4 linked regions of the Homo sapiens genome follow. The protein of the gene in region 4 purifies or fractionates together with the protein of the main gene of each other region. This does not show direct contact. Each region holds a gene or a part of one and is shown on either strand. Other genes may lie near its edges. The genes, in order: ANKRD50, MMADHC, PKLR and CIMAP1A.

Region 1 (5,276 bases), on a different chromosome or scaffold from region 4:
GCCAGTGTGGTAATAATGGTGTGAATTTAAGAGTAGAAATGTAAACATGCAGTAAATTTCAAATAATTTTATTTTAAAATTGGCTAATTATAATTTTACTATAACAGCAAGACTGGTAAGCAGAGGCTATATCTTGAAAATAAGATTAGCACAAATATTTGCACAATAAATGAATTTTTCACAGAAATTCTACAACATAATCCTCAGGGTGTATCTCATCACTGCTACATTCAGCCCTTCCTATCTGTGGATTCTGCATCTACAGATTCTCCCAATCACAGATGGAAAATACAATATTGGAGAGATGCAGAATCTGTAAATACAGGAGGCCAACTGTGGGACTTGAGCATACAAAGATTTTAGTACCCACCTGGGTTCCTGGAACCAATCCACCCAGGATACAGTGGGACGACTGTAGTTGTAATCCTTCCAACTGCTAGGGCAAAGGAGTGAAAACATTAATTATCACCAAGTTCTCACAGTGTATTTCCTTGGACCATTAGCTAGAAAACTCCATGTAAGTTTATTTAGCTACCGGTCTGTTTTTAAATTCTTCTATGTATACCATACATTTGTGTTTAAACACATTGTTATATTATTAATTTTTTAGAATAAGATTTATATTAATTCAACAAATTTATAAAAAATATAACTGCAGAACACTACAATTTTCATGAAATTACAGAACAGAAGATACCTTGTTGGCCTTTTTAGAAACCTCTCTTTGGAGTAATAGGATAGTTATTCATTAGTAAACATAGGGAGATTGTTTCCAGGACTCCTCTTGGATACCAAAATCCTCAGACACTCCTGTCCCTTATATGAAATGGCACAACATTTATATATAACCTACGCATATGCTCTGTATACTTTAAATCATCTCTAGATTACTTACAATACCTAATACAATGCCTACACATCACTTCATTCAGGTGGACTCAGGTAGTACTTGGCACATAGCAAATTTGTTTTTCAGAACTTTAGAATTTTCTTTCCGAATATTTTATCTGAGATTGGTTGCATCCAGGGATGTGGAACCCACAAATTCAAAAAGCCATTTGTGTGTATGTATACATACAGCATGTGTATGCTGTGTTCTGGTGGGGAAAGAGGTCATGAAGAAGTGACGCAAGTTTACTGAGTGAAGAAACACACAAATTTTATTTAGAAAATGAATGACCATGTTTGCAATAAACTCCCAAAATATCCGCCATAAGATGGCCATAATATTCTGATGATCAAGGAGCACACATATACAAAAGTTATTGGATTACTGCAATTCTCAGAGGCACAAAACCTGACATGGTGTGATATAGTATATAATCAGTCACGGGGGGGAAAAGAACATTAAGTCTTTAAAAAGGCTTAGGAAGACATAAACAGTAAATCTTTGTTTTTCTACCTTCCTTTGGACAGTGTTATATTTCACTTTCTTCTTTGCAAAATGTTTCCAAATTCATTTGCTCAGGATTTATTTAAGATAATAACTTAAAACAACTAACAGTTGTTTATGCTATATGCATATCATGCATGTTCTACTGGTTCAAGGACAAAATTAAAACAAGATCTTCTCTGTAAAGCAAATATATTTATTATGCACTTTCATATACACAGGGATTTTTTGAGTAATATCATACAAGGGATAAAATAAAACTTTTACAATGTGAAATTCAATGTACATTTTTGGCTATTTACATACCTCAAACCAAGGGAAAAATAAAAAGAAAGCATTTGTTTGCAACTACATTTGCTGAGAAGTGTAAATGGAGGACATTAAGCAAAACAAATATTTGCATAGCCAAAACAATATTGAGAAAAGTATTTACTTCTGTTTTTTAAGTATCAAACTATTTTTGGTGAGAATTCCAGTGAGGGTGGGGGTGAAAACAAAGAACAAAAATTATTGGCTGTACTTTGCAGTACGCACTGATTTCAGGTCATTTTTCCTTCCAAAACCTTTCTTAGAAACATTCAGATTTTTATTTCATTACTGTATTTTTATCACTTTCCTTATTATAAACTCATGATATTTAGGGAATAGACACAGACGGAATGTTATAAAAATGTTATAAGCACATGCCATCATAGTTGTGTAGTGGCAACAGCTGATTTATAAAATTTAAAGATTTTAATTTCAAAAATATCTATTAAGGAGTTTTATATTTGGAGGACAATTTTTACTTTTTAATGGAGCAGAAGCCATTTTCATTTATAGTATTAAATCCCCCACAGAAACAAATAAGCAAGGCAGGGCATCTCCAGCACCCATCCTATCATCCTTATCCTAACTCAAAGTCATTTATGTTCTATTCCAAAACATAATTTATATAAAAACATCCCGAGGAATACTTACTTTTGAAAATCGTATTTTTCCAATAGGTTCTCTTCCTACCAATTGCTTCAAGTGTATATAGTATGGATATGAAAACAGTTAGCTCTTTGAAAAACATAAATCCCTTATGCAATGTCATATCTTCGCCCTTTGGACACAAGGTGCAATTTTGTAAAAACAATAAAATTAAATAAATACAATTTCAATAATTCAAAGTTAATAGAAAAACTGGCAGCTTTCAGGGTTCTCTTTCTAAAGAAAATTACATGTAATAGAAATTAGAGCTTCATCCTCTACAGTAATGTAAATGTACTGTATTTGAGATATGAGTAAAGTTGGTTCTAATAATAGTATGTGTTCATATTTATTAATAGACTCATTAACACTTTTAAGGCTACTTTGCAAGAGTCCCATTAATTTTATTTAATAAATGTCCCATAGGGACAAGAATTCAATACTTGAAACATTCACATTTGAGTTATTAATATTGCCATGTCACCTTAATATCAATTGAACTTATCAACTTATCTCGTAGTCCTCACTATGACTTATAGATGACAGACAAAATGAGTTTTGCTGACTTTAAAAAATAAAAGCAAGAAAAGCCTTACAATAAGATTCAAGTGAAACATTTATCATAATTATACATTTCTATTTCCACGAACAATGTATCACATGTGTCCTTCATATATGAAGATGACATTACTGACCTTTGTTATTAGGACATATTCTAAAGATTTTGTTCTAGAAGTAGCAATGGTTTTGTGCTGAATCTCCAAATTCTCTTTCCTCATTCCTCATCAACAGTACATGAAAAGAACAGAATTTCTGGGTTCTATAAGATTAACAGGCCCATTCTAAGATCAAATCCACAACCTTGGCTTCTAAACTGTTATGACAACTTTTCCAGACATATAAACGACCCATCTAAGCTACAGCTCCACTGATTTAAGAGTAAGGAGACTAAGGCTGTGGGACACATGCTCATTTGAACCAATTTTACCTTCCTTGTCATGAATTTCTCTCTTAACCCTGGCATCCAGCCCTCCTGCATGCAATTGTACAAAGAAGAAAACAGGAAAGAGTATGAGGATAGAAAAGTGCAAATCCATCACTATTAAGTAACAATAAAAAGTACACATGTGCTATGATTGACAGGGGAGTGGTGTCATCTGTGAAGGGCAGCACATTTTATATTCATCCAGAATATTCATCCAACCAAACCATTAAAATTAATCCAATTGATTTTGAGTGGGGCTATTTTGGTCATGCAGCAATTTACAAAATAGAAACCGCTGAGAGAGAAGCCAGCAAAATTAATTTATTTAGCCAGGAGGAAGAGGTCAGTTTAGTCAATGAATTATTCAGGGATCAAAAATCTACCCTTAGATAGACAGGTGCATTTCTCTCTGCACACACATGTGACTGAGGCATGGCTTTGTCCCTGAGAATTTTCATGCCTCAGGAATGATAGTCTGTCTTCTTAGAGGTGGAATGACAAAGTGAATGGAAGATGAAATTGTATCCCAGCGGATGAAATAGGACTTTGTTCTGCCTACAGACTGGTTGGTTGTTTGTTCTGACATGTTTAGCCAGAGATGAGAAGAATTCTACTGGGAAAATCCAGATTTAAACTACTTAAAGCAGCTCCCTAAACTACTATAAAATATTTTTTTTAAACTGCCAAGAAATCATTTTTTCATTTCAATGTGATATTTATATAGAAAATGATTTTTATCCAATGCTGAAGGTGTAGTGAACATAGAACAGTTGCAAGATTTGTTTTATTGAGCAACGTCTTTAAAGATACAAGAAACAGGCCATACACTACAATGCAATGTGACTGAAACAGTATGTTTAAGTTTCTTTTGCCACAAAAAGAAAAAAAAATAAATACAAGGAACACTGCCTTTTCATATATATTTGATTATGGCACATGCACATTTTTTATCACATCTTAACTTAAAATACTCAAATTTTCTTTTCAGCTTTTATCAGGGAACTGCAGTATGTATCTGCATTTTTAAAAAGTGCTTATTCCTGTGTAGTGAATACAAAGCACACAAAATGAAATTTTTTAAGCACAGAGGGTTACATTGAGAAGGCAGCCTTACTATTTAGGCACATTACAGTAATTAAGGTAACTGTACTGCAGAGATCACATTCTTCATTTTTTTTGTTTTTTCAGCAAATCAACAGGCATATGTTTCCATCCAGTAGCTGAAGAACCACTCCATCACAATGTCTTCTGTTTCACAGAATAGGAAACTAATGCAAAAGTTAAAAAAAAATTATTTTCTACATTGTATTATACAGCTACATATCATTTTAAAACTTTATTTAATACATTTACCTCTATATATCTTTATCTATATATTTACCATGCAAAGCACAAAGCAGACTTAACTATTATTTAACTTATAAGCCACTTTTTAAATTCCACAAAATGTTTACCTTAATTCTGGTGTTTCATTTTTAATACGTATTTATATTTTGCCTTTAAAACAGATATCATGAGAGTTGAAAGGGTGCACCATCAGAACTAATTATTTTAAAAACGAATTGCATTTGGGGACTGAATTAAGTACTTTATTCAAATTATTTTTGAATGACATTTGGTCACCCCTAGATTCACATTGAAGGCTGTTTATTATTAGAATATATGAGGAATTTATCTATAATAGTGTTTCACCTATTATATCCCTAAAATATATTTACAAAGACAGAAGCAGCAAAAAGGAAAGAGTATATATAACTTTGTTAGAGGAAGAAAAATCATTAAGCAAAGTGGGATAAATATAGCTGCAGTGTATGCTAGGAAAGACCCCTAATAAAATCTTCAGATTTATCTCCAATACAGGAAATGAGCTTCTGAAAAAGTATCTAAAATATAAAACTTACATACCTATTTTCCCACTAACATCCCCTATATTATTAATGAAGT
Region 2 (4,591 bases), on a different chromosome or scaffold from region 4:
AAAATCACATCGCTTTTATCTCTCAAGTTGCTCCTAAAATATTAGTGTCCTTTCAATTCTTTGCCAGAGTTCAAGGCCTCTTTGTCTTACCTGGATTTTTAGAGTCATTGTAGCATGACACACAATGAAGATAGAATAAATCTGGGTTCAAAGATTGACTCTGCAACTTACTTAATTTTGTGACCTCGAGGAAATTACTTAACCTTTCTAAGCTCCTGTTTCTTTGTTGTTGTTGTTGTTGTTTGGTTTGTTTGTTTTGAGATGAAGTCTTGCTCTGTCACCAGGCTAGAGTGCAGTGGTGCGATCTTGGCTCACTGCAACCTGCAACTCCCTAGTTTAAGTGATTCTCCTGCCTCAGCCTCCCGAGTAGCTGAGATTACAGGCGTGCACCACCACACCCAGCTGATTTTTGTATTTTTAGTAGAGGTGGGGTTTCACCATGTTGGCTAGGATGGTCTCGATCACCTGACCTTGTGATCTGGCCGCCTTGGCCTCCCAAAGTTCTGGGATTACAGGCGTGAGCCAGTGTGCCTGACCACTCCTGTTTCTTTATAAATGTCACATGAGGATAGTAATAATCTCTAGCCCACAATATTTTTTTTTCTTTCTTTTTTTTTGAGACAGAGTTTTGCTCTGCAAATCTTGGCTCACTGCAACCTCTGCCTCCTGGATTCAAGCAATTCTCGTGCCTCAGCCTCCCAACGAGCAGGGATTACAGGCATATGCCACCATTCCTGGCTAATTTTTGTATTTGATATTGCTGTTTCTCATTGCCTGTAGACTAAAGTCCAAATTTCTTAATGCTGAATAAATGGCATTTCATAATTTTGATCCCTTACCTTTCCCACCTTATCTGCCACTACTTCCTATTCCCTCTGCACTCCAGCCACAACATACTTGCCATTTTTCTTGAATACACATTCTGTGTCTTTGTACTTTATTATCTTTTGCTGGACTATTTTTCCTCCTGAATTCCTAACCTCTGTACCAGCTATTTTTTACCTGTCAGACATAACACATCAACTAACTTGTAGCTCAAATATCACCATTTCAATCATTTCCTGATTCCTCCCAGCAAAGTAAGTTTCTTCCTCATCTATGCCCCTGGAAGACTTTATTCATAACTCTGTAGCACTTGTCATATTTAATTGCATTTATTTGCTTGTACTTATTTTTTTTTATTAGGCCTGAAATAGCTGAGAGTGAGGACTGAATTTTTTACCATTGCAGCGCCTGCTCCTGTCATAGTGCCTGATGTATAGTAGGCTCTCAGTAAATTTCAGTTGAATAAAAGCCTCTAAGCTCTTCCTGTAGGAGAGGCTGTATTATTTAGTCATGTATCTTGTAAGTTAGTATCATTATCCCCCTTTTACAGATTATAGAAGAAAAGATAATTAAATATTACCATAAAATAGAAGAGGTAACATTATGAGACACATTATGGCATTTTAGTTACTTAGCCAATTTCTGTTTATACCAAGTTTTAGAATATCAGTATATTTATATATTCATGCTCTGCTGTATTCACATTTTTTGAACTTCCAAATCTTATATTCATTGTAGAGAAAAGTTTGAGTAAATGAGAAAATGTTATTACCTCACCTCCCAGTTAGATTATAATTTTTTGTAAAAACAAACAAAAAGCTTTCTAAGGAAGACAGGTTTATAACAGGCAAGATACCGTTTTATTTGAACTCCAGATTTTGTTGACTTATATCCTTGTTCCCCTTAGGGTAATGATGCACCTGTTGAACAAGAAATTAACAGTGCAGAAACTTACTTTGAAAGTGCCAGAGTAGAGTGTGCAATACAGACATGTCCAGAATTGCTGCGAAAAGGTATGTCATGCTTTATACTTTGAAACACTGTTACTAATTTTTTTAATATGTTGAATAATGTACTCTATAGAAATTGGAACGCTGTATACCTTAATATTATATTTTACCGTATCTGGCTGGAAATGATTGCATGGCCAAGATAAAGGCTTTGAAATGTCCTGTGACATCTGACCTCATGCTGCCATTAGATAGGAAGAGTAAAATTTTTAATAACTTTTTTCCTAAGGCTAAATTAAAGTCATTTTTACTCCTGGGTGATTATTAGAGTTATAATTTTATGAGTTAATATAATACGGAAAAATCTTAACAGTAAGCATTTTTGAAAATTATATTAACCCCAAATAACGTGTAATCCTACTTACCCTTCAGGATTGTTGGTAGTAATATTTCAGTTCATCCAACAAAAGCAGAAGTAAACAAAACTAAGTGAATTTTACCCTTTTCAAAAATAACATACATTTATAAAAATTAACTAATACCACAGTAATTTTACTTAATCAGCATTTTTCTAAAGAAGTACTTTTATCCTTCTTTAAAAATTTGTTCTTTAAAAATCAAATTCTTTTCTACCTGGAATGTTTATTCTTATTTGTAGATTTTGAATCACTGTTTCCAGAAGTAGCTAATGGCAAACTAATGATTCTGACTGTAACACAAAAAACTAAGAATGATATGACTGTTTGGAGTGAAGAAGTAGAAATTGAAAGAGAAGTGCTCTTAGAAAAGGTAATTCTTTCAATTGCTAATAATTTAATTTTATGGTCATTATTTAAGTAATAGTGAACCAATGTCTTAAAATGATGACTGTCATTTCCACCCTTTATTCATTTTCTGCCAAAGTATTATAATACTAAAGGACTTACATCTTTTTTGAGAGTAAAAGTGCAGCTTTTTAGTATCCTTAAAAGTTTAGATTCTGTTTATTACTTTCCTCAATTTATTTTTAAAAAGTCTATTTTGGAAAATTTGGTAAATGACAAAAAGGTAAAATTAACTCTTTATCCTTCTCCCCTCAGCCTCCCCCTCCCTCTCCTTCTCCATCTCCCCCTTCATCTCCCCATCTTCCCCTCCAAATCTATCCCCTTTCTCCTGGGCTTAGAACATGTCAAAATAAAGAGTGAAAATTATGCCAGTTCTCTCCAAGAGTAAACAGTAACAGTATGCAGTACAATAATAGTGTAATAATGTATACCCACATTTTTTTCTGTGGTTTGCTTTTAACCTAAAGTATGCTTTGACATGTTTCCATGCTTACACATAGATATATTTCATTCTTTATAAAATCTGCATAGTATTAATATCACAGGGTAAACCATAAACTTTTTAATTTATTTAAGAATTTTAACTGGGTGCAGTGGCTCACGCCTGTAATTCTAACACTTTGGGAGGCTGAGGCTGGAGGATTGCTTGAATCCAGGAGTTTGAGACCAACCTGGGCACTGTAGTGAGACCCTGTCTCTACAAAAAAAATTATCCAGGTTTAGTGGTGCGCACCTGTAGTCCCAGCTACTCTGGAGGCTGAGGTGGCGGATCACTGGAGCCTGAGAGGTCGAGGCTGTAGTGAGCCTTGATGGTGCTACTGCCCTTCAGCCTGAGCGACAAAGTGATACCTACCATCTCTTATAAAAGAAGTTTCTTAGTCATTTATAAGTTTAAAATCCAACTTTTGCTATTATAGGCAACAAGCAGTGACAGTCTTTTTACAAATACTTTTATGCATGCTAATATCTATAGATTCCTAAATAGAGAATTGCTGAATCAGTGTGTATCTACATTTTAAATTTTGATAAGACACTTCCAATTTGCCCATCAAAAAGACTGTTCTAGTATATAAGCTGTCATGCTAGCTTACCCTGGGTGTTAGCAGTTCTTTCCAACTCAGGTTAGCTAAGGGGCCCAAGTCACTAACTTGAGTTAAAAAATCCCTTTAGTGATTCCTGTGTAGGATGTTAGGAAGTATTTTATATTTGGGATTAGATGTATGGTCTTTATTTGTAAAAGTATATTGTAATTTACATATTCAACAATATTATAATTTCACATTTAAATGTCACATAACTGCTAATAGATTTCGTGTGGTTTTTAACAATCACAAGCATATTAGTTATATACTAATTAACAAGGGAGTTATAGAGAGTTATAGGATATTTTCTATTTACATATTAAAATAATGCTTAGTAAATATATACTCATCACTATCATTGAAGTGCTAGTATATTGTCACATGTATATTGCATTAGTGGTTCTAATTTTTGGTCAGTTTAAGATTCTGAACCTAATTTGATACTGACTCCAGTATAGTTCTAAGTTTCCTATAACCAGTTTGAATGGCAACGTGCTTCATCTTGAGAGTTTTAATTTTGTAATGACTGAAGCTATTTTATTTTCTGTGAAAAAAGATTTTTTTTTTTAAAGATTTCTTCATGATTATTTTGGAACCACACCTAGCTCTCCAAGTAAATATTTGATATTTTATGGTTTAAATCTGTTCTAATTTTTTCCAGCAGATGTCAGTGTTGGTGAACAGAAATCCTAAGAAAAATACTTCAGCTGGTTTTTTTGTTTTAATTTGAGATTCTTTCAGTTAACCTTTGTAAACATTTGATCGCATTTCATTGTTTTGCTCTCCTTGTAGTGTTTATGTATGACACATCTGTTCATTAAATTGAAATACATTCTAATGACTATTTTCTAAGCCATATTCAGTAGTTTTCTATTTTTAAGAATTATGAGGATTAATAAAATACAGCAAT
Region 3 (3,737 bases), on a different chromosome or scaffold from region 4:
TTTTTTGAGAGAGAGTCTTGCTCTGTCGCCAGGCTGGAGTGCAGGGGTACGATCTCGGCTCACTGCAATCTCTGCCTCCTGGGTTCAAGTGATTCTCCCACCTCAGCCTCCTGAGTAGCTGGGACTACAGGCATGCGCCACCACGCCTGGATAATTTTTGTATTTTTAGTAGAGACAGGGTTTCACCATGTTGGCCAGGATGGTCTCAATGTCTTGACCACGTGATCCGCCCGCCTCGGACTCCCAGAGTGCTGGGATTACAGGCGTCAGCCACCGTGCTGGCATCTCTTACACCTTTAATATACTGCAGTGGTCACATTCCCTGCATGCCACCCGTGGGACATACTTCACTGCCTCATTCCCTACAGGATGGCCTTGATGTGGTGAAAGGTGGTGGCTGGTTCTCGTTACAGGGCTGGCCTGGTCCCTCAATGACTAATTTTCTTTCTTTTCTTCTTTTATTATTATTATTATTATTATTATTATTATTATTATTATTATTATTATTATTTTGAGATGGAGTCTTGCTCTGTCCCCAGGCTGGAGTGCAGTGGTGTGATCTCGGCTCACTGCAACCTCTACCTCCTGAGTTCAAGCGATTCTCCTGCCTCAGCCTCCCTAGTAGCTGGGATTACAGGCATGCGCCACCACACCCAGCTAATTTTTGTATTTTCAGTAGAGACAAGGTTTCACCATGTTGGCCAGGCTGGTCTCAAACTCCTGACCTCAGGTGATCCTCCTGCCTTGGCTTCCCAAAGTGATGGGATTACAGGTGTGAGCCACCACACCTGTCCAATGATTTGTTTTCTTTCCCTCCCCCAGGAAAGCTCCGTGGCTTCCTCCGTGTTGGAGACCTGGTGATTGTGGTGACAGGCTGGCGACCTGGCTCCGGCTACACCAACATCATGCGGGTGCTAAGCATATCCTGAGACGCCCCTCCCTCCTCTGGCCCAGCCTACCCTTGTACCCCATCCCTTCCTCCCCAGTCTACGTTCTCCAGCCCACACCCCTCCAAAGCCCCACCTTTAAGTCCTCTCTTCTCTATTCCTGACCCTCCCTACCTGAGGCCTATCTGAGACTATAACTGTCATCTAGCCCCTTCGAGGTTGCCCCTTCCCCATCTCCATTTCACACAGGTCCTGAAAGTCTGTGTCCAATTATGCACTGGCCACCCAACAGCACCAATTGTACATTCCCTGCATCCAATCTGCTCAGCAGGCCCTAAGATGCCTTGAGTCTTTAATCCCAGTTTGGCTGGTTAATTCCATAACCCCAGGCATCCCATCCCTTGGGGTGGGGGAGAGGGGAGACAGGGCAATCTTGTCCACAGTCTCCCATTCTCATATGTAGCCCTCATGATAATCTGGGCATCTCGTGCCAGGGCAGGCTACCCCTTCATGGTGACTAACAGTTACATGAAAGTCCACGCTTTTGGGAAAACTGGGTGGGATGGATGCTGGGGAGAAGTGAGGGCTGGGCAGCTGATTTTGTCACTGTCTTCACAACCTCCGTGCTGGGCTTGTAGACCACTGTCCTGGCTGCTCTCATGCCTGCCTGATACCCTGCTTGGTCAAATCCCCGGCTGCTTCCTTCTGCACCCAGAAATTCCTTCCCACTCATGTTGTTCCCACACACAAACCAAGAGCCAAAAATGAGTGTGTCTATTTTATATTTAAACCCAGCTGTTTGGAAGCAATTATAAAACTTCTCCCACACACCAAGAACCCCAGAACTCCCCACCCAGAAGGAAAGGAGACTTAGGGTCCTGGTCCCACAGTCTTTAATGCTGTAGAGTAGGAGAGGGGACAGGCAGAGTGAGGGTGGTAAAGGACTACTCTTGTCCCTGAGAAGGCAGAGGTGCTGGCTGGCCTGCCCTTCCCCAGGCTTGGATACCTTGGGCCTTTCCCTTATTCCTGCACCAACAGCAAACTCAGAAGGAAAAAACAAAACAAAACTCTAAAGGTAAACGCGGTCCTTCTCCCTCTCTCATGTGGCTCCTCCTGCCCCTACCTGGGAGAAGGTTCAAGTATTGCGCTGATGGGTTTGGGCAAGGACCACAGAGGCTGGCATGGAGAGGCCCTGCCTCCTCCTACTCCTCCTGTCTCCTTACCTGAAAAGGAGGGGAGGGATGGATAAAGGAATGGGTAAACAAAATTAATTGGTAACACATAAAGTTAGTAAATGAATAAATACAATTAAATAAATGAATAAATAAACAAGCGAAGAAAAAAATATCACACAAGGATTCAGCCATTTGCCCCTCCACCGGGGGGGATCTAGGCTGGCATATTAATAAGGAGGTGCCAACTACCCCTTAACTTTTAGGGGGTCACGACTGGGGCAGAGGGTACAGGGAAGAGGAAGCTCGCAGTTTACAAAAAGATGGTCTACCACAGGACAGAGACTGCAGGGAACTTAGAAGTATGTTCCCACTCAGAGGGTAGACACAGAGTGTCCACAGGTGGCAGTGAGCGGGTAAAAGTGGATACCCACACTCAGGACCCAAGACATCTGCTGACAGCAATGGGGGCACAGGTGACTGGCAGTGCCTGGCTATGCTACAGGAACAGGAAGATAACCAGACCGGGCAGAACCTGCAGGATCATTGGCAGGGAAACAGAGACATCTAGTTACTTGGCAGTGATGGCAGTGGCAAGTACTTGTGCTTAGTAAAGGTGGGGTCATGGGCCTGGGCCTGCACCTGGCAGGACCATAGCCAAGGGAATATCCTTGTCAGAGGGTTTTGAGTCACTTCTACTTGGCAGTGGAGACATACAGCGCCTGGCATATTACCTTGAACATGGTAGCTGCTCAGTACACATGATGAACGGGTGAATGGATTATGATGGGACAAGCTACAGGATTCTTGAGCTGAGGACACAGAGACCGTCTTCATGGCAGTATGCGGAATGTCCGCACAGGGTCGACATTTCCATGGGGCAATGTTTCAGGTCCCCATGGCCTTCCCCAAGAGGCATCTGCCCTTGGGTACATACTACTGCACCCCAAGAACTAAGGCTGGATGTACTCAAAGGTTTTACATGTTGGCAGAAAGCTGGAGACCCCGGGGTGTGGCTGGCTCAGGCACTGGTGGCCTGGGGGGCTGGGCTGTCCTTGGAGGTTTGGCCAGGAGCCCTGAGGGAGGCAGCCGCTCACTTCCTGATCCCTTACGCCCAGGAGAGCCATCGCCTGTTGCCCGCTGAGGCAGAGAGGGTTGGGAGGCTGAGAGTGGGCGGCCCCGAGGTCCTAGCCGCCGTCCACCTCCTCCTGGAGGGGGACCCAGCAGGGAGACCTGGGAGCGCCCTGCCCGGGATAGGCTGGCGTGCAGGGTTCGGGCAGGTGGGGCGGGCAGGCGGGAGGTGGATGCCCATGGGCCAGCTCGGACGGGCACCAGCGGGGAAGCTGGAGAGCCTGCTGAGCGCCAAGCAGAGCGAGCAAGGAGGGTGGCTGGAGAGTCAGGGGAGAGGGGCAGAGGGCCCCGCTGATGAGTCAGGGCAATGGCCACATTGGAGGTCACAGCAGCTGCCTGAAGGGGCGCATGTACCAGTGGCTCCCACAGTACTGGCTTTCCACTAAGCTGAGCTCCTGTGCTCGGGGCCCGACCCCGAACACCCCGAGCCATGTCTCTGTCATGTTGCACCAAGTGCTGCTCCATGATGCCACCACTGCTGCCTGGACTTGGCTCGGAGCGCTTCCGCTGCAGTATGGAATTCTTCTTGCCTAGAAGTTGTACCGGG
Region 4 (5,021 bases):
CACAGACCCCATGTCGCCCATGGGCTAGGTCAGGGCGGGGGTGCTCAGCATCTGAAAGCTGGTGTCGAGCCCCAAGAGGACCCCTGACAAGGCCAAGAAAAAGGTACACCCATGTCCAAGGGGGTTGGGAGCCGCAGGTGAGCAGCCTCTGAGGTCAGCCAGGGCAGCCCCAGCGCCCACACTGACTCACACCCACCACAACCAGCACAGACCCTGATCCTGACCCTGGATCCCAGACTCTCCCACAGCCAGAACCTTCCAGCATTTCAGCTGCCCAATCTATGGTCTCTTCTGGGGGCACAGCTGAGTGGAACCGCCCCATCCTTGGCCACCCTGGGTGCTGAGCCCTGACACTTCACTGCCCCGGCCCTCCTCTCCACACCTCTGTCCTGTCTGAGCCTGGCAAGGGGGCCATGCGGTGCTGTCGGCTCTGTGCTCTGTCCCACCTGCCTACATGGTATCTGCCTGGATTTCCATTTGGCTGAGGGAGCCCTAGGGAGGGGGCCCTGGAGGACTTGGTTACAGGGGACCTGGTGAGGGGACCCAGTGAGGGGGACTTCATGGGTGGGTGCCTGGTTGAGGGGACCTGGTGAAAGAAACATGGTGAGGGGGCCTGGTGAGGGGTGGTCTGGTGAGGGAACTTAGGGAAACCTGGTGAGGAGGACCTGGTGAGGGGACATGGGGGGGACCTTGGTGAGGGGACCTGGTGAGGGGACATAGGGGGACCTTGGTGAGCGGACCTGGTGAGGGGACATGGGGGGGACCTTGGTGAGGGGACCTGGTGAGGAGGACATGGGGGGGACCTTGGTGAGGGGACCTGGTGAGGGGACATGGGGGGGACCTTGGTGAGGGGACCTGGTGAGGGGACCTGGTGAGGGGACATAGGGGGGGACCTTGGTGAGGGGACCTGGTGAGGGGACATGGGGGGGACCTTGGTGAGGAGGACCTGGTGAGGGGACATGGGGGGGACCTTGGTGAGGGGACCTGGTGAGGGGACATGAGGGGGACCTTGGTGAGGGGACCTGGTGAGGAGGACATGGGGGGGACCTTGGTGAGGGGACCTGGTGAGGGGACATGGGGGGGACCTTGGTGAGGAGGACCTGGTGAGGGGACATGGGGGGGACCTTGGTGAGGGGACCTGGTGAGGGGACATGGGGGGGACCTTGGTGAGGGGACCTGGTGAGGGGACATGGGGGGGACCTTGGTGAGGGGACCTGGTGAGGGGACATGGGGGGGACCTTGGTGAGGGGACCTGGTGAGGGGACCTGGTGAGGAGGACATGGGTGGGGAGCCTTGGTGAGGGGACCTGGTGAGGAGGACCTGGTGAGGGGAACATGGTGAGGGGAACATGGTCAGGGGGACTTATAGGGGTGTCCTGTTGGGGGGACCTGGTGGTGAGATCTGGTGAGGGGATCAAAGGCAGAAGCCATTGTCTTGGTCACATAGACAGAATCTAGAACCTGTCATCCCACAGAGCCACATTCTAGAGTTTAGAGTGGGGGACCTCTCCCCAATTCTGTAAGCCCATGAGGAGAGAGGAAGGCCTTTCTCTCCATGCTCCTTTTGCGGGAACTCCCTGGCACCAAGGCCAGGGGGGAAAGGACAGTCTCTGATGAGGATGGGTCTCTAGGCTGCTCTGAGTGCTGTCCCTGCACTGAAGAAGTTATAGTTCCCTCCCAGGCGGCCCCCTCCCTGCCCCTCAGCTCAGCCTCAATCAAGAAGTTCCCCATCTTTGACCACTCCAAGTAGGAGAAACCGGCCCAGGGCTCCCTTAGAGCCGAGAACAGTGGTGAGTTAAGGGCCAGCATGGACAGCAACTCTGGGTTACAGTTAAGCTGGTGAGGAGCTCACAGACCCATGCAGAAAGCTCCTACTGTCCCTGACTCCTGGCTCCCAGCTGGAGATCCCCACTGATGCTGCAGCAGGTTCCGCAGGTCTTACCCTTCAGTGTCAGCAAGAGCAGGGTCGGGGACATCAGGGGCCGGCATGGGACAGGGCCGGGCCTCCCAGCACCTGGTAACCCTCTCACTTACGGACAGAGCTGGCCATGACGGAGGAGGTATGGATGGGTACCTGGAGGCCCCATCGCCCCCGGGGACCCATCATGGCCCTCTACAGCAGCCCTGGACCCAAGTACCTGATTCCACCAACAACAGGTAAGAGCCTGAGAGACTGTGGGAGAGGGTCAGGAGCCAGGCGGGCAGGTGGGGGTCCCGGGAAGGGCCTGGGGCTCAATCCCTGACTCCCAGCGGGGAGAAGGGCAGGTCAGGCTCCGGGCTGCTCAGGGCCCATTGCGTCCACAGGCTTCATGAAGCACACGCCCACCAAGCTGCGTGCACCGGCCTACAGCTTCCGTGGGGCCCCCATGCTCCTGGCAGAGAACTGCTCCCCAGGGCCCCGTTACAATGTAAACCCCAAGATACTGAGGACTGGCAAGGACCTTGGCCCTGCCTACTCCATCCTGGGGCGCTACCAAACCAAGACCATGCTGACTCCTGGTCCAGGTTAGTGACCCTGTCTCAGGCTCCTGCCCTGCGCAGCCTCAGGCCTGCCCCTCCCTGCTGGGTGCCCCTAACCTCATGTCAGCAAGGGTGTGGGAGAGCTCAGCCATCCTGGCCCCTCCCGTCCCATCTTTCTCTCTTGAGGGGTCACCATCGTGCCTGGGCAGAGAAGACTCTGGCCCAAGAGTCCAGCTCCGACCTGGACCTTTCTCTGCCAGGCCGACGTCAGACCCCACTCTCCCTGCTCAAAAATAGCCTTTGTCTCACCAGCCCTGAAGTCAGCATTTCCATCCTGGACACCCCCTGACCCGACTTGGTCACCACCTGTGTTGGAGCCCAGAGGCCCCACGCCTAGAATGTTGGGGAGTCCTCCTTGAGCCCCCAAACTGGGCTGCATACCCACCTGCTTGTCCCAGCAGCCCCCTTGGCTCCTTGTCCAGGTGACTACTTTCCAGAGAAATCCACCAAGTACGTGTTCGACTCAGCACCCAGCCACTCCATCTCTGCCCGGACAAAGGCATTCCGAGTGGACAGCACCCCAGGTCCGCAGCAGCCCCAACCATCCTCAGCCAAATGGACCTGGGGATCCTGGGTGGGGTGTGTGACATGGGGCAGCCCGACGGCTGATCTCCAGAGTTGGGGGAGAGCCCCAGGGAAGGAGCAGTGGGCCCTGTTCCGGCCTGAGGCTCCACGTCCACCCTGCAGGCCCCGCTGCGTACATGCTGCCCATGGTAATGGGGCCCAATACCGTCGGCAAGGCCTCCCAGCCCTCCTTTTCCATCAAGGGCCGCAGCAAGCTGGGCGGCTTCAGCGACGACCTACACAAGGCAAGGGCCACCCCAACTGAGAACAGAGAATCACCCCCAACCATCTGAACCCTCCCCCGGAACCCAGGACCCACCAGTTCGGCCCTGCCTTGCCAATGCCCCTCAGCCCCCTCAGCCCTTCACCCTCTGGGCACCTGCCACGTGCTGGGGTTACACTGCAGTGGTGAGGAGGGGCAGGCAACAGGCCAGAAGGGAGACGCCCTGGCCCCAGCATGGACCGTGCTGAGGACAAGAGATGGGGTTTAGGAAGCACTGTCTGGAGAGAGAGAGGCAATCTTAGATAGGGTAGCATGGAAAGAAGAGGAGGAGGAAAAAATAAACCATGAGCTATTTGGGGGAGGAGGGTCCTGGTTTCAGAAACAGCCAGTGCAAAGCCCCTGGGTGGCACATGCCTGAGAGCTTGAGGGGCCTGAGATGGGGAAGCAGCATCATGGCACCCAACAGCCCTCGTCCATGTTGATTTTGCCAGCCCCAGGCCCTCAGGTCCAACAGGGCAGCAACAGCCTCTCTCACACACGCTCAGCGATGTTCCCAGGACTGGCACACACTGGGGATGCCATTGCCAGCGTGAGGCTGAAATGGAGGAAGTGACCCCCACATGAGGTACCCCACAAGCAGTGGGGTGTGATCTCCACAGTGTGACAGAAGACAGAAGGGGACCTTGATGCACGGGCACCAACTTGTAGCTGACCCTGTTGACTCAGAGCCTGAGTTTGCTCCCTGTCCTCTAGGGCCACACGCCCTGGGTAGGCCGAGTTGGTCTGAGCCTCCTTTACCTCTCAGACCCCAGGTCCCGCAGCCTACCGCCAAACTGATGTGCGGGTGACCAAGTTCAAGGCTCCGCAGTACACCATGGCTGCCCGTGTGGAGCCCCCAGGGGACAAGACCCTCAAGCCAGGACCAGGCGCCCACAGCCCTGAGAAGGTCCAGGAAGAGCACAGCTCAGAGGGGTCAGGGTGGGGCAGGGTCCTGGCCCAGAGGGATGTGTAGGAAAGAGCAGGGAGGGGGGCTGGGACACAGACGAGGGGAAACAGGGTCAGGCTATGGAAGGACACAGCCAAGAAGGGGTGGAGGGGTGGGGTGGGGATGGGAGGCACCTGCACCCTGAGGACCCTGTACATTTCCAGCACTAGGCCCACAGGTAACCCTTCAGGGACATGGAAGCAGAGACCCTGCCCTTTTCCCTAGACACTGTGACAGCTACTACTGCTGAGTGCTCTGTGTTCAAACCTGGGAGCATAGCTTCTGGCCACCTTGGCCCCAGGTTCAGGAAGGACAGCAGCCCAGCCCCAGCCAGGGCAGAGACCTGCAGGTGGGGGCAGGGGTGCTGGTTCCTATCATAGCCCCTCCTCTCCCAGGTGACCCTGACCAAGCCCTGCGCCCCAGTTGTCACCTTCGGCATCAAACACTCTGATTACATGACTCCCCTGCTGGTTGATGTGGAATAACGCCAGCCCTGCTGTGCCCCATCACACCCGGCATCTACACAAGATCCGCCGGGCCACAGAGCTCGAGGCTGTCTTCACCAGCTGGGCTGGGCCAGCCTGGCCCTGCAGGGCAGAGCACGCTTGTTTGGGCAATTGTAATCAGTTACTTTTTTTCTATGCTATTTTACCATTTTTTAATCTTGTTTTCTGCTGTGCCCAAATTATTAATAAATCAGATTGCATTAATAAGGGTTTGTCTTGGTGGA

Evidence for each region.
Region 1: the proteins of CIMAP1A (region 4) and ANKRD50 purify together in Homo sapiens (affinity purification with mass spectrometry; one large-scale study listed by BioGRID and IntAct). This does not show direct contact.
Region 2: the proteins of CIMAP1A (region 4) and MMADHC purify together in Homo sapiens (affinity purification with mass spectrometry; one large-scale study listed by BioGRID and IntAct). This does not show direct contact.
Region 3: the proteins of CIMAP1A (region 4) and PKLR purify together in Homo sapiens (affinity purification with mass spectrometry; one large-scale study listed by BioGRID and IntAct). This does not show direct contact.

The regions. Positions count from the first base shown.
Region 1 is NC_000004.12:124,662,915-124,668,190, forward strand, and holds the end of ANKRD50 (ankyrin repeat domain-containing protein 50), read right to left. Parts: intron 4,601-5,276; 3' UTR 1,134-4,600; downstream 1-1,133.
Region 2 is NC_000002.12:149,573,684-149,578,274, reverse strand, and holds part of MMADHC (cobalamin trafficking protein CblD), read left to right. Parts: intron 1-1,732; coding exon 1,733-1,838; intron 1,839-2,433; coding exon 2,434-2,564; intron 2,565-4,591. UniProt on the Homo sapiens protein: Involved in cobalamin metabolism and trafficking. Plays a role in regulating the biosynthesis and the proportion of two coenzymes, methylcob(III)alamin (MeCbl) and 5'-deoxyadenosylcobalamin (AdoCbl). Promotes oxidation of cob(II)alamin bound to MMACHC.
Region 3 is NC_000001.11:155,287,764-155,291,500, reverse strand, and holds the end of PKLR (pyruvate kinase PKLR), read left to right. Parts: intron 1-822; coding exon 823-929; 3' UTR 930-2,208; downstream 2,209-3,737. Other genes in the region: HCN3 (potassium/sodium hyperpolarization-activated cyclic nucleotide-gated channel 3), read right to left, coding at 3,038-3,720. UniProt on the Homo sapiens protein: Pyruvate kinase that catalyzes the conversion of phosphoenolpyruvate to pyruvate with the synthesis of ATP, and which plays a key role in glycolysis.
Region 4 is NC_000011.10:195,258-200,278, forward strand, and holds CIMAP1A (ciliary microtubule associated protein 1A), read left to right. Parts: upstream 1-1,503; 5' UTR 1,504-1,789; intron 1,790-2,039; 5' UTR 2,040-2,047; coding exon 2,048-2,156; intron 2,157-2,303; coding exon 2,304-2,504; intron 2,505-2,941; coding exon 2,942-3,043; intron 3,044-3,206; coding exon 3,207-3,328; intron 3,329-4,111; coding exon 4,112-4,252; intron 4,253-4,686; coding exon 4,687-4,776; 3' UTR 4,777-5,001; downstream 5,002-5,021. UniProt on the Homo sapiens protein: Outer dense fibers are filamentous structures located on the outside of the axoneme in the midpiece and principal piece of the mammalian sperm tail. May help to maintain the passive elastic structures and elastic recoil of the sperm tail.